Linked DNA regions of Homo sapiens. The protein of the gene in region 1 binds, or shares a complex with, the protein of each later gene. Each region holds a gene or a part of one and is shown in the gene's direction. Other genes may lie near its edges.

Region 1 (3,748 bases):
GTTGTATCTTTTTACATTTGAATTTGTTGTGTTTGATGAGACGAACAAAAAGCCATAGGCCATTTGACTGACTGGCTTATATATATGACTTGATAGGAAATAGAGCGGCGGCGTGGCATGATGCGTCAGCGAGCACAGGAGAGAAAAAATGAAGAGATGGAAGTCATGGAAGTGGAAGATGAGGGTCGTTCTGGAGAGGAGTCAGAATCAGAGTCTGAGTATGAAGAGTACACAGACAGTGAAGATGAGATGGAGCCTCGCCTTAAGCCAGTCTTCATTCGAAAGTAAGTATCTCACAAGCCAGATCTGAATCCACTTAATTACCACTTTCCAGGCCTGGAGACAAAAGTCTGTTTTCTGTCTTGCTATTCTGAAATCTAAACGCTGAGTGAAAGTGCTTTTGCTAGTGCTCTACCCTTGGCAGACTAGCTGCTGAGGAATATCTTGGCGTTAGCAGAGAACCTGAGTTTGTTTTCACATCTCTTTTTTCAGTAATAGAGCATATATCTGTCCAAGGCCTTTTTTTGTTTGTTTGAGACAGAGTTTCGCTCTTGTTGCCCAGGCTGGAGTGCAATGGCATGATCTCGGCTCACCACAACCTCCACCTCCTGGTTTCAAGCAGTTCTGCCTCTGTCTCCCGAGTAGCTGGGATTACAGGCATGCGCCACCACGCCTGGCTAATTTTGTATTTTTAGTAGAGAGGGGGTTTTTCCATGTTGGTCAGGCTGGTCTCGAACTCCCAACCTCAGGTGATCCGTCCTCCTCAGCCTCCCAAAGTGCTAGGATTACAGGCATGAGCCACGGCACCAAGCCAAGGCCATATATTTTTAAGCACAAAATTAAACTCAACGAGCAAATTCCTATTCCTTTCCTGATGGCTAGAAATCCTACTGCTTAGAGGCCAGCAGGTTCTTTGCTGTCTAGGCAGTTCTCAAAGATGAACATGATTTTAGTCCTCTAAAGACCTGGGATGATGGCTGGGCACGGTGGCTCACGACTGTAATCCCAGCACTTTGGGAGGCTGAGGTAGGTGGATCAGGAGGTCAGGAGTTCAAGACCAGCCTAGCCAAGATGGTGAAACCCCATCTCTACTAAAAATACAAAGAAATTAATCAGGTGTGGTGGCAGACTCTTGTAATCCCAGCTACTCAGGAGGCTGAGGCAGAGAATTGCTTGAACCCAGGAGGCGGAGGTTGCAGTGAGCCAAGATCACACCACTGCACTGCAGCCTAGGCGACAAGTGAGACTCCGTCTCAAAAAAAAAAAAAAAAAAAAAGACCTGGGATGACTCAGCGTTTTTTGCTCTTTGAAAATAATAGAGCCAAAGATTGTTTGGTTTTTGTCTGATTTGGATGGGACTAGGTCTAGGGGAACAAAGCACTCCACTCTAAGGACTTTGGGCAATTAACAGGATCTCTGTGATGCAGGAAGGACCGAGTGACAGTTCAAGAACGTGAAGCCGAAGCATTGAAACAGAAGGAGCTGGAGCAGGAAGCAAAACGCATGGCTGAGGAAAGGCGCAAGTACACACTCAAGGTACTGGGGAGTGGTTGCAAGGAATGAGTACAAGAAATAGTGTAATCAGGTTTGTCTGAGGAGAGTAAGGAAGTCCAAGCTGAATTGTTCTCCCTATCCAGATTGTCGAAGAGGAAACCAAAAAAGAGCTGGAAGAGAACAAGCGATCCCTGGCTGCATTGGATGCACTCAATACTGATGATGAAAATGATGAGGAGGAATATGAGGCATGGAAAGTTCGAGAGCTAAAAAGAATCAAGAGGGACAGAGAAGATCGAGAAGCGTGAGTAAAAAGATGAGCCTAGAGTTAATGCTGCTAATGGAACAGGTTTCTAGCAGGATAGCTCTGAGACTCATTACCTACTGTGAGTTCCATTCTAGCCACCTTCAGAGTTCTTGTTGCTTTGTGAGTTTCCTATAATTGGAATATGAGTTTCACTTGCTACAGTGAAATCAGGGAAGAGAAAAACACTTTGTCGATGTGTGTCCATAATAGAGTGCCAGCCAGTGCTCCCTTTAGTTTCCTAGTAGACACAAAAATTAGTAACTGTTAGTAGTTATCTCTTCTTGTGTACAACCCAACCCACAATTGAGTGACTTGAAACTATAATTTATTACTTTTCACAACTTTGGAGGTTGGCTGAACAGTTCCTCTACTGATTTCACCTGGGCTTACTTATGTAGTTGCATCCAGCTGGAAGGTTGACTGGGCTGGAAACTTAAAAGGGCTTCACTCACATGTTAGTAGTAGGTGGTGGCTATCAGTTAGGATACCTCACTTATCCTTCACTGGATTAGACTGGCTTCCTTACATAGCAGTCTCAGGGCACCATTCTAAGAGGGCAAGGTCTTCTGACATGTCGGTTCCAGAACTCATACATCGATCTTGCCACATACTGGTCAAAGCAAGTCACAAGGCCAACCTAGCTTTAAGCAGGTGGAGAAACAGACTCCACCTCTGCAGAGGAGGAGCAGCAAAGTCATACTTTTTGAAAAGGGGCATACATACTGTGAGGGGAAGAATTTGTGGCACTTAAATAATCTACACTGTGTTAGAGCAGAATCTTTTTTTTTTTTTTTTGACATGAAGTTTCACTTTTCACCCAGGCTGCAGTGAAGTGTCACAATCTCAGCTCACTGCAGCCTCCGCCTGCCAGGTTCAAGTGATTTTCCTGCCTCAGCCTCCCAAGTAGCTGGGATTACAGGCATGCGCCACCATGCCTGGCTAATTTTCGTATTTTTAGTACAGACAGGGTTTCACCATGTTGGTCAGGCTGGTCTCGAACTCATGATCTCAGGTTGTCCACCCAACTCGGCCTCCCAAAGTGCTGGGATTATGGCATGAGCCATCATGCCCGGCCCCAGCAGAATCATTTCTGAGCTGCATCACTCATTCCTGTAAATTACTAGGTATGAGAGGGTAATCCCAGATTACAAAGGAAACCATCAATAGATAACTCTAGGCTGGGCGTGATGGCTCACACCCATAATCCCAGCACTTTGGGTGGCTGAGGCAGGCGAATCACTTCAGGCTGAGAGTTCAAGACCAGCTTGGCCAACATGGTGAAAACCTATCTCTACTAAAATACAAAAATTAGCTGGGTGTGGTGGTGTGTGCCTGTTATTCCCAGCTACTCGGGAGGCGGAGGCAAGAGAATCGCTTGAACCCGGCAGGCAGAGGTTGCGGTGAGCTGAGATCGTGCCACTGCACTCCAGCCTAGGTGACAGAGTGAGACTCTATCTGGAAAAAAAAAAAAAAGAAAAAAAGAAAACTTGCCTGAGTATGAGCTACACACAGTAGATAACTCCATACTCAGCCTGTAATTTTTTGTTTTTGGTTTTTTTTTTTTTTTTGAGACACAGTCTCACTCTGTCGCCCAGGCTGGAGTGCAGTGGCGCAATCTTGGCTCACTACAACCTCCACCCCCTGGGAGTCAAGCGGTTCTCCTGCCTCAGCCTCCTGCGTAGCTGGGACTACAGGTATATGCCACCACGCCCAGCTAATTTTTGTATTTTTAGTAGAGGTGGGTTTTCACCATGTCGGCCAGGCTGGCCTTGAACTCCTGACTTCAGGTGATCCACCCACCTCGGCCTCCCAAAGTGCTGGGATTACAGGCATGAGCCACCACGCCTGGCCCTCAGCCTGTAGTTTCTAAGATTTTTATCCTGGACCTGTAGGAGTAGGAGTCTAAGTGCCCTTTAAAATTGTACACAAGGCCGGGCGTGGTGGCTC
Region 2 (3,748 bases), on another chromosome or scaffold:
CTCAAACCCGGAAAAGCCAGACTGCAATTACTGTGCTCTTAACTACTTCACCTTACAACACACTGTGTGAAACTGGATAATGTTAATATGTAACTGAGAGCTTGCTTTTGGTGTACTTATTACAATAAATCAGGCTTCCCAGCCACTGACTGAACATTGTGGATTGGGCCTCAATTTGCTTACCCACAAAATGGAGAAAATAGAATCTTCCGTTTATTCAACCAATATTTATTAAGTACCCATCGTGTGCCAGGCACTATTTTAGGATAATGGAAGATTAAGTGAAAAAATGCAAAATGGTAAATCCACTTTCCCACTACCTTAATCCCTTGCATTTATTTGTAAGGTACAGTGGTTTTATTTATTAAGTATCATTTGATGAATACTATGGAACTAACATAATTCAAGCAAAATTTTGCATTCAATTTCGGCAGATTCACAAACCTCCTAAAGTCCACATATTGCCCTCCATTAAAGTTAAAAACTGTTGCAAAGGGACTTAAACCATTCTGTCATATTGGAAACTCCTTTGGCATTTCCAGCCCACCTAACACAGCAGAGACGAGGGTACTATTATTCATGTGTTACAGACAACTAGAATCGTATATAATCATTGCAGTTTCACAAATAGATCAGGATAAGAATGCCTTTTCCAACTGTCACAGCAGAAGACTCTTCAATTCCGGGGTTAGAAAAGAGAAGTAGGAAGGGGGCCACCAGACTTCTCTTCTGAAAAGAAGGTGAATGACAGACAGCCCAGCAGTTAGGAGCTCATCTGAAAAAAAGATCTGGGTAGGAGCCCAGACTGCTTAGTCACGAAAAGCGACCTAAGACACGTCCCTCCCTGGGCGCAATTTACGTCCGTAAAATGGGGTAATAACCTCTGCTCCGCCTTCCCTGTAGTGGTTCCTACACTATAGCTCAAAGAACGAAACAAGTAGAGTGCTTTACAAATGCAGATGGAGGGAAAGTCATCACTGAGCATCAGGGTGCGGAGGGCAGGAATGCTCCTGCTTCTAGGCTGTTGGCTTCCGCCTTCCCCCCTGCAAACTCAGTTCCCTGCAGCGCGGGAAGCCTTTTAGGAATCGGAGTGTGGAACAGAGGAACGCTCTTAACAGTTCAGAACAGTGCCTGGCACTGAACAGGCGCTTGGTACATGTCAGCTAAAAGAATCAATGACTGAGTCTACAGAGAACGTCCTCAGTTTCAGAGGTTCCGATGCGCCCTCCCCCGAGTCCCTCGCAGCCCGCTGGACGCCACACTCACCCGGCTCCAAAGCTTCCTCCGGCTAGCCGCAAGCCCTCCGTTTCCTACCGCCTCCACTTCGAGAGCTCCGGGGGATGCGGCACCTCTAACCTGCACCAGCAGGGCTCCTTCTACAACTACGGGCCGAAAGCCAGGACCAAAGCGTGTGTCTCACTAGAAATGAAAAGAAGGTGGAAGGAGAAAAGAAAACTTCGCGCCAATCGGCGTGGCCCCGCCCCCAGACCGTCCCTTCGTTGCGACACCAACTAGCTCGCCCCGCCCACTCCGTACACCTAAGAGGGGCGCATGACGTACATCCGCTAACATGCAGCCGCCATCATTGATTCGATAGGCGACGCGGGGAGCGGAAGCCCTTTACACTACGGTGTTTCCGGCTTCAAGATGGTCGCCTAAGCTGTTTAGTGAAACTTCTTCCACCTTTCTCCATTCCTCTAGGTGCTTTTTCTGAACCTGGATGTGAGGCATTAAAGGATCCGACGGAAATAGAATTGAAGGCATTCTAAAATGGCTAACCGTACAGTGAAGGATGCGCACAGCATCCATGGCACCAACCCTCAATATCTGGTGGAGAAGATCATTCGAACGCGAATCTATGAGTCCAAGTACTGGAAAGAGGAGTGCTTTGGACTTACAGGTAAGTGGAAGCGCGCGGAGCGCCTCTCAGCCCCCTTGTGGCCCATTTCTCCTGACCGAGCGCGGGTAGGACTAGCGACTGGCCTCTGGGGGTGGTACTGGAACGGAGTATGTCGATCATTCAGAAAAATTTTGAGTGCCTGCTAAGTGCCTCGTCTTGTGTTGAGTATTAGAGGCACAGATGAATCTGGTAAGGTCATATTCTGAAGGCTGTCTCAGTTGGGTGTTGTGAGTTATTCCGTATTTAATGATAGCAGGCTGGGTTGCAACAGTGTTAAGCTCAGGGATCCGGATATAACACTTTGACACAATCTGTTGAAGGTCTTTAAGGACCTAACGTTAATATGCCTGAAACCAAATTCATGATCTTACTATTCTTAGATCTGGGCCGGTTCCAGTATTTATAAATATCAGTGCTTCAGAGAAGTCTTCCAGGTAATCTTCCGATTTGAATTGTGGCTTTAAATCCATGTCCTGTGACAATCTGTGGACCTTGAGCAAGTCACTTTACCTTTCTTAGCCCTCATTTTCCTTACCTGGAAATAAGAACATTGCTAGAACTTTCTTCATGACTTGTTAAAAAAGGTTAAGTGAGATAATATGAAAAGCTTAGCAGGGTACCTATTTTATTATCCATTCTCAATGTATATTAGCTGTTGTCGTTACTGTTATTAATACACATTCGTTCTCCTAATATTACACTGTTGATGTATATTTAGGAGAACCAAAGCTTGAACTAACTCCACTCCAACTAGGAAGAGCTTAGCCCTAATATGTTACTGTATTGTTTTTGTTTTTTAGCTGAACTTGTAGTCGATAAAGCCATGGAGTTAAGGTTTGTGGGTGGCGTCTATGGTGGCAACATAAAACCAACACCCTTTCTGTGTTTAACCTTGAAGATGCTTCAAATTCAACCCGAGAAGGATATCATTGTAGAGTTTATCAAAAATGAAGATTTCAAGTGAGTGCAATGTTCACTAGCTAATATAAGAGGTTTAATTTTGGCGGTTTAGAATTGGGCTTTGGTTAAGAGGGGTGTACACAATGTATCTCATTTCTAGAGAGTTCCACTCCAGATTTTTGCTTTTGAGCCCTTGAGTTTGTATTTTTTGTTTGTTTTTTGTTTTGGAAACAGAGTCTCTCTGTGTTGCCCAGGCTGGAGTGCAGTGGTGCGATCTCGGCCCACTGCAACCCCCATTTCCTGGGTTCAAGTGATTCTCCTGTCTCAGCCTCCCGAGTAGCTGGGATTACAGGCATGTGCCATCACGCCTGGCTAATTTTTGTATTTTTAGTAGAGATGGGGTTTCACCATGTTGGCCAGGCTGGTCTCGAACTCCAGACTTCAGGTAATCCCCTCCCCCCCCGGGCCTCCCAGAGTGCTGGGATTACAGGCATGAGCCACCACACCCTGCCAAGTTTGTATTTTATCTGTTCTGATTGTATTAATCTTCTACTTTACTTTCTCAGTTTTGGTAATTTTTCCCTGAAAAAGGATTTCACAGATTCACTAAATACATATTAAGCAAAAGTGAGTGCCTGATATGTTGGTAGGCACTGGACGCTCAGGGGTGAAAATCAAACAACAAAAGGTGGTGGTTAAGAGGTGTAAGATCTGGGTTCACATCCAGATTCTGTTGCCCATTAACTATGACATTGGAGAGGTTACTTAATTTTCTAAACTTTGCTTATCTGTAAAATGGTGACTATAATATAAGAGTGAAAGAACGTAATGCATGCAGATCTCTGAACACAGCACTTGCTGCATGGTAAACACCTAGAAAATGTCAGCTTATTACCGTATTACCGATTCTCGAGGAAATCACAAACAAGTATAGGAGACAGACATAAT
Region 3 (3,748 bases), on another chromosome or scaffold:
CAGGCTAGAGTGTAATGGCGCTATCTTGGTTCACTGCAACCTCCGCCTCCCAGGTTCAAGCAATTCTCCTGCCTCAGCCTCCCGAGTAGCTGGGATTACAGGCATGCGTCACCACACCCGGCTAGTTTTGTATTTTTAGTAGTGATGGTTTTCACCATTTTGGTCATGCTGGTCTCGAACTCCTGACTCAGGTGATCCTCCCGTCTTGGCCTCCCAAAGTGCTGGGATGGCAGGCGTGAGCCACCGCGCCCCGCAAGATACTAAATTTTAAAACACATCTTGCTGAGGCCAGACAAAAAAAGCCCCACACACTAAACTAGCCAGGCACGGTGGTGTGCGCCTCTGGTTTCATCCATTCTGATTGCAGCACAACAGCACTCCAGCCTGCGCAACAGAGAGCGGCCCTGTTTCTAAAAATAACAAAACAAAACAAAAAACACCACACACATCTTGCTGAAAAACGTATCAGAAACTGCTAGAGTTAGTGCAAGTTTATACTTGAAAATACTCAAAGATATCAACGATCACCTCTCCCTCAGGCTGAAACTGCCTTTTGTGCTCAACTTTGCTAGAAGTTTGGTCTGGGAAACAGCTGACAAGCTTAGAGCTTAGATCTCTTTTGACTAGCAAGGAACCCAACTGACATTCGAAAGTGAATTGACAGCATCGAGTTGCCACTGAAAATTAAAGGAGGCAGGAAATAGAACGTTATGAACTGAAAGGAATTGGAGAATAGTCCACACCCCTCATTTGATAAAATATCAAGGGTACCAGAGATGAAGTGACTTGTCCAAGATTAGAGAATTGTGTCTGAGTCTTAAAAGCTAAACCTCTACAAAGATGTGCATTTGACCAAAACGCTAAAATCACACCCCCAAATCACTCCCCACAAGAGGAAGTCTTAAAACGCTTCAAGAAGTTAATCTGCAAAGGCTTCCCTCTTAAATAACAGGATGAGAGCGTTTCATAATTTGTAAATTAAGCCAATGCAAAAGGGCGCTTATTATTTTGAGAACCAAGCAATTTGGCAAATACTCTCAGACTAACTTTACTCCCGTGGAGAAACTGGTGATCATGGATCAGGGAAATCAACGGGGGTCTAGGGAGGAGAGGCTGCAGATCGCCCAGGTATCAGGGAAGACAAGCTCGGCGCGTCCGACAGCGTGAAAAGAGTTGACAGGACTACTCATATACCCGACTAGCTTCCGCTTCTTTGTTTTCCCGCTTTTTTGTATCCCCCAGCAAGGAGAGTTTCCCACAGCCCGGATTTCCCGACTGAAGGCTCCCACTCTCCCTAGATCCTCCATGAAAAAGAAGAGGCTCGACCCCGCACCTCCTCGCCGCAGAGCCGTTCGTATACAGCCTCCAGCTCCTGCAGCTCTGTCAGGGAGCGAATGAGCTCAGCGGAGATTTCGGAGCAGCGGCCACCTCCCACCCCCTCAGACGGCTGCTGCACCCCTGACAGCTTCGGAGGCGAATCAAGGTCCGCCATCTTGGTCCCCATTCGGCACTTCCGGTCCCGCGAGGCCCCCTCTTCGTTGGCGCCTATTTGGGGCTGCCCACAGAAGTGCCCAATGAACTCTAATGGTTTTTTTTTTTTAAAGTCTACTTCTAAAAACGTATTAATTTTCTATTCTCCTGGAAAAAGCAAAGCAATAAAGCATGTTTAAATAATTTGTAATGCCGTGTGGAAGCAAGACGGAAGCATTTTTTAAAAATTATATATATTCTTCAGGCGCGGATTGGGTGCCTTTTTCCGCCGCGCGCCACCAGAATGTCCCTGTCTTGAGGTCTAATGGCGGACGCCAGTATGTTGGAGTTGGTGGTGGCTTAAGTTTTGAAGGGAGGTAGCATCCGTTGGATATCCACACCATCCTTCTCGCTGCAGGGTAAAAAAACAGCCTGGAGACTTCCCCGGGCCCGGGGAGGCGGAGACCGGCCATATGGAAGGGGGACCCGAGACTTTGGCGGGGGTCACGGGCAGTCTAGGCCCGAGAGGCTGGGGACCAGGAGGAGGTACCGAGGGATGGTTGAGGCGCCAAAACGGCTTCCTGCAGTTATCTCTCGCTTCCATCCACAGTGTGGGAACATATTCTATCTCAAAATAGGGCTCGTGGAGATTGCTTTTAACTTCTGGGGACTCTGAGACGGGGGAGGTGTGACAAGCAGCGGGAGGCATGGATGTCTCCCTCTGGGTAGAGTAAATGGTACACCGAGGGGAAGATAGAAAGATGGAGCGTGTTAAAAGCGTAAATAACGGAAACAGTCTTTAGAGCCAAGACTCCGGTTTGAATTTGTATTTTGGTAGTTGGGCAACTTGTCTCCTCCTCTGAACCTCTATTTTCTCGTTTGCGTAATGGAGGACAGAGTTTAAATGCGATGATGTTTCCTTGGAGGATGGAGAAGATGCAGTGAGCAATCATACAAGCTTTTTGTAATAATGGTAAACAGACGTGGGGGAAGTTTTTTTTGTTTTGTTTTGTTTTGTTTTTGTGACGGAGTCACAGTCTGTCGCCCAGACTGGAGAGCAGTGGCGCGATCTCGGCTCACTGCCATCTCTGCCTCCCGGGTTCCAGCGATTCTCTTACCTCAGCCTCCCGAGTAGACTAGCTGGGATTACGGGCGCGTGCCACCACGCCCGGCTAATTTTTCTTTTTTTGAGACGGTGTCTCGCTTTGTCGCCCAGGCTGGAGTGCAGTGGCGCGATCTCTGCTCACTGCAAGCTCCGCTTTCCGGGTTCACGCCATTCTCCTGCCTCAGCCTCACGAGTAGCTGGAACTACAGGCGCCCGCCACCGCGCCCAGCTAATTTTTTGTATTTTTAGTAGAGACGGGGTTTCACTGTGTTAGCCAGGATGGTCTCGATCTCCTGACCTTGATCCACCCGCCTTGGCCTCCCAAAGTGTTGGGATTACAGGTGTGAGACACCGCGCCCGGCCCAGACGTGGGGGAAGTTTTAAAGCTTACCAAATTTATCTGGTATGTATTTTTTGTTTGTTTGTTTTGTTTTTGAGACGAAGTCTCGCTGTCGCCCAGGCTGGAGCGCAGCGGCTTGATCTCGGCTTACTGCAGCCTCCTCCTCCTTGGTTCTAGCTATTCTCACGCCTCAGCTTCCCGAGTAGCTGAGATTAAAGGCGTGTGCCACCGCGCCCGGCTAGTTTTTGCATTTTTAGTAGAGGGGTTTTCACTGTGTTGGCCAGGCTGGTCTCAATTCCTGACCTCAAGTGACCCATTTGCCTCGGCCTCCCAAAGTGCTGGGATTACAGGCGTGAGCCACCACTGCGCCTGGCCTCGTATATAGTTTTTCTAGTACTGGACTGATCCTCCGAAATGCACCTTCCTCCACGATCCAAAGTTAAGGTGTCGCTGGAGAACCTGAATCCAACTAGATTTGGGAAAAAATGAATTCCAAAGGTTTGTAATGGATTGTATCAGTTATAAGGAAAGGGGAAAGTAGACTGTTTTGATCAGCTACAAAATATGAAAAGTAACTTGCGGGGAGCTGTTCAGGGATTCAGAAGCAGCTCCTAGCTTCCTCTCTTTTGCTTTTTTTGTTGTTTCTCCACTCCCTGGTCTTTCAACATCGGTCCTTTTCGTTCATGTTTTACTGTGGTCCTAGAACGTTAAACATATACCTTAGTCTATGGGCTGGGCGCGGTGGCTCAACGCCTGTAATCCTAGCACTTTGGGAGGCGGAGGCGGGCGGATCACGAAGTCAGGAGATCGAGACCATCCTGGCTAACATGGTG

The links.
Region 2: the proteins of MFAP1 (region 1) and PRPF38A are in contact, whole or in part, in a crystal structure (PDB 5F5S), measured with the Homo sapiens proteins. Residues at the interface, in NP_005917.2 of Homo sapiens: Glu275 (codon at 1,734), Tyr276 (codon at 1,737), Trp279 (codon at 1,746), Arg282 (codon at 1,755), Glu283 (codon at 1,758), Arg286 (codon at 1,767), Arg289 (codon at 1,776), Asp290 (codon at 1,779), Arg294 (codon at 1,791), Leu297, Glu298, Lys301; in NP_116253.2 of Homo sapiens: Tyr124, Asn125, Tyr127, Lys129, His143, Asp145, Glu146, Asp149, His153, Tyr169, Val170, Glu172.
Region 3: MFAP1 (region 1) and SF3B3 share a complex: the UniProt entries of both Homo sapiens proteins name them as parts of the spliceosome B complex.

Annotation. Positions count from the first base shown.
Region 1 is NC_000015.10:43,811,037-43,814,784, reverse strand, and holds part of MFAP1 (microfibrillar-associated protein 1), read left to right. Parts: intron 1-96; coding exon 97-284; intron 285-1,427; coding exon 1,428-1,536; intron 1,537-1,637; coding exon 1,638-1,798; intron 1,799-3,748. UniProt on the Homo sapiens protein: Involved in pre-mRNA splicing as a component of the spliceosome.
Region 2 is NC_000001.11:52,402,980-52,406,727, forward strand, and holds the start of PRPF38A (pre-mRNA-splicing factor 38A), read left to right. Parts: upstream 1-1,622; 5' UTR 1,623-1,770; coding exon 1,771-1,900; intron 1,901-2,700; coding exon 2,701-2,860; intron 2,861-3,748. UniProt on the Homo sapiens protein: Involved in pre-mRNA splicing as a component of the spliceosome.
Region 3 is NC_000016.10:70,522,040-70,525,787, forward strand, and holds the start of SF3B3 (splicing factor 3B subunit 3), read left to right. Parts: upstream 1-1,776; 5' UTR 1,777-1,889; intron 1,890-3,748. Other genes in the region: COG4 (conserved oligomeric Golgi complex subunit 4), read right to left, coding at 1,334-1,504. UniProt on the Homo sapiens protein: Component of the 17S U2 SnRNP complex of the spliceosome, a large ribonucleoprotein complex that removes introns from transcribed pre-mRNAs.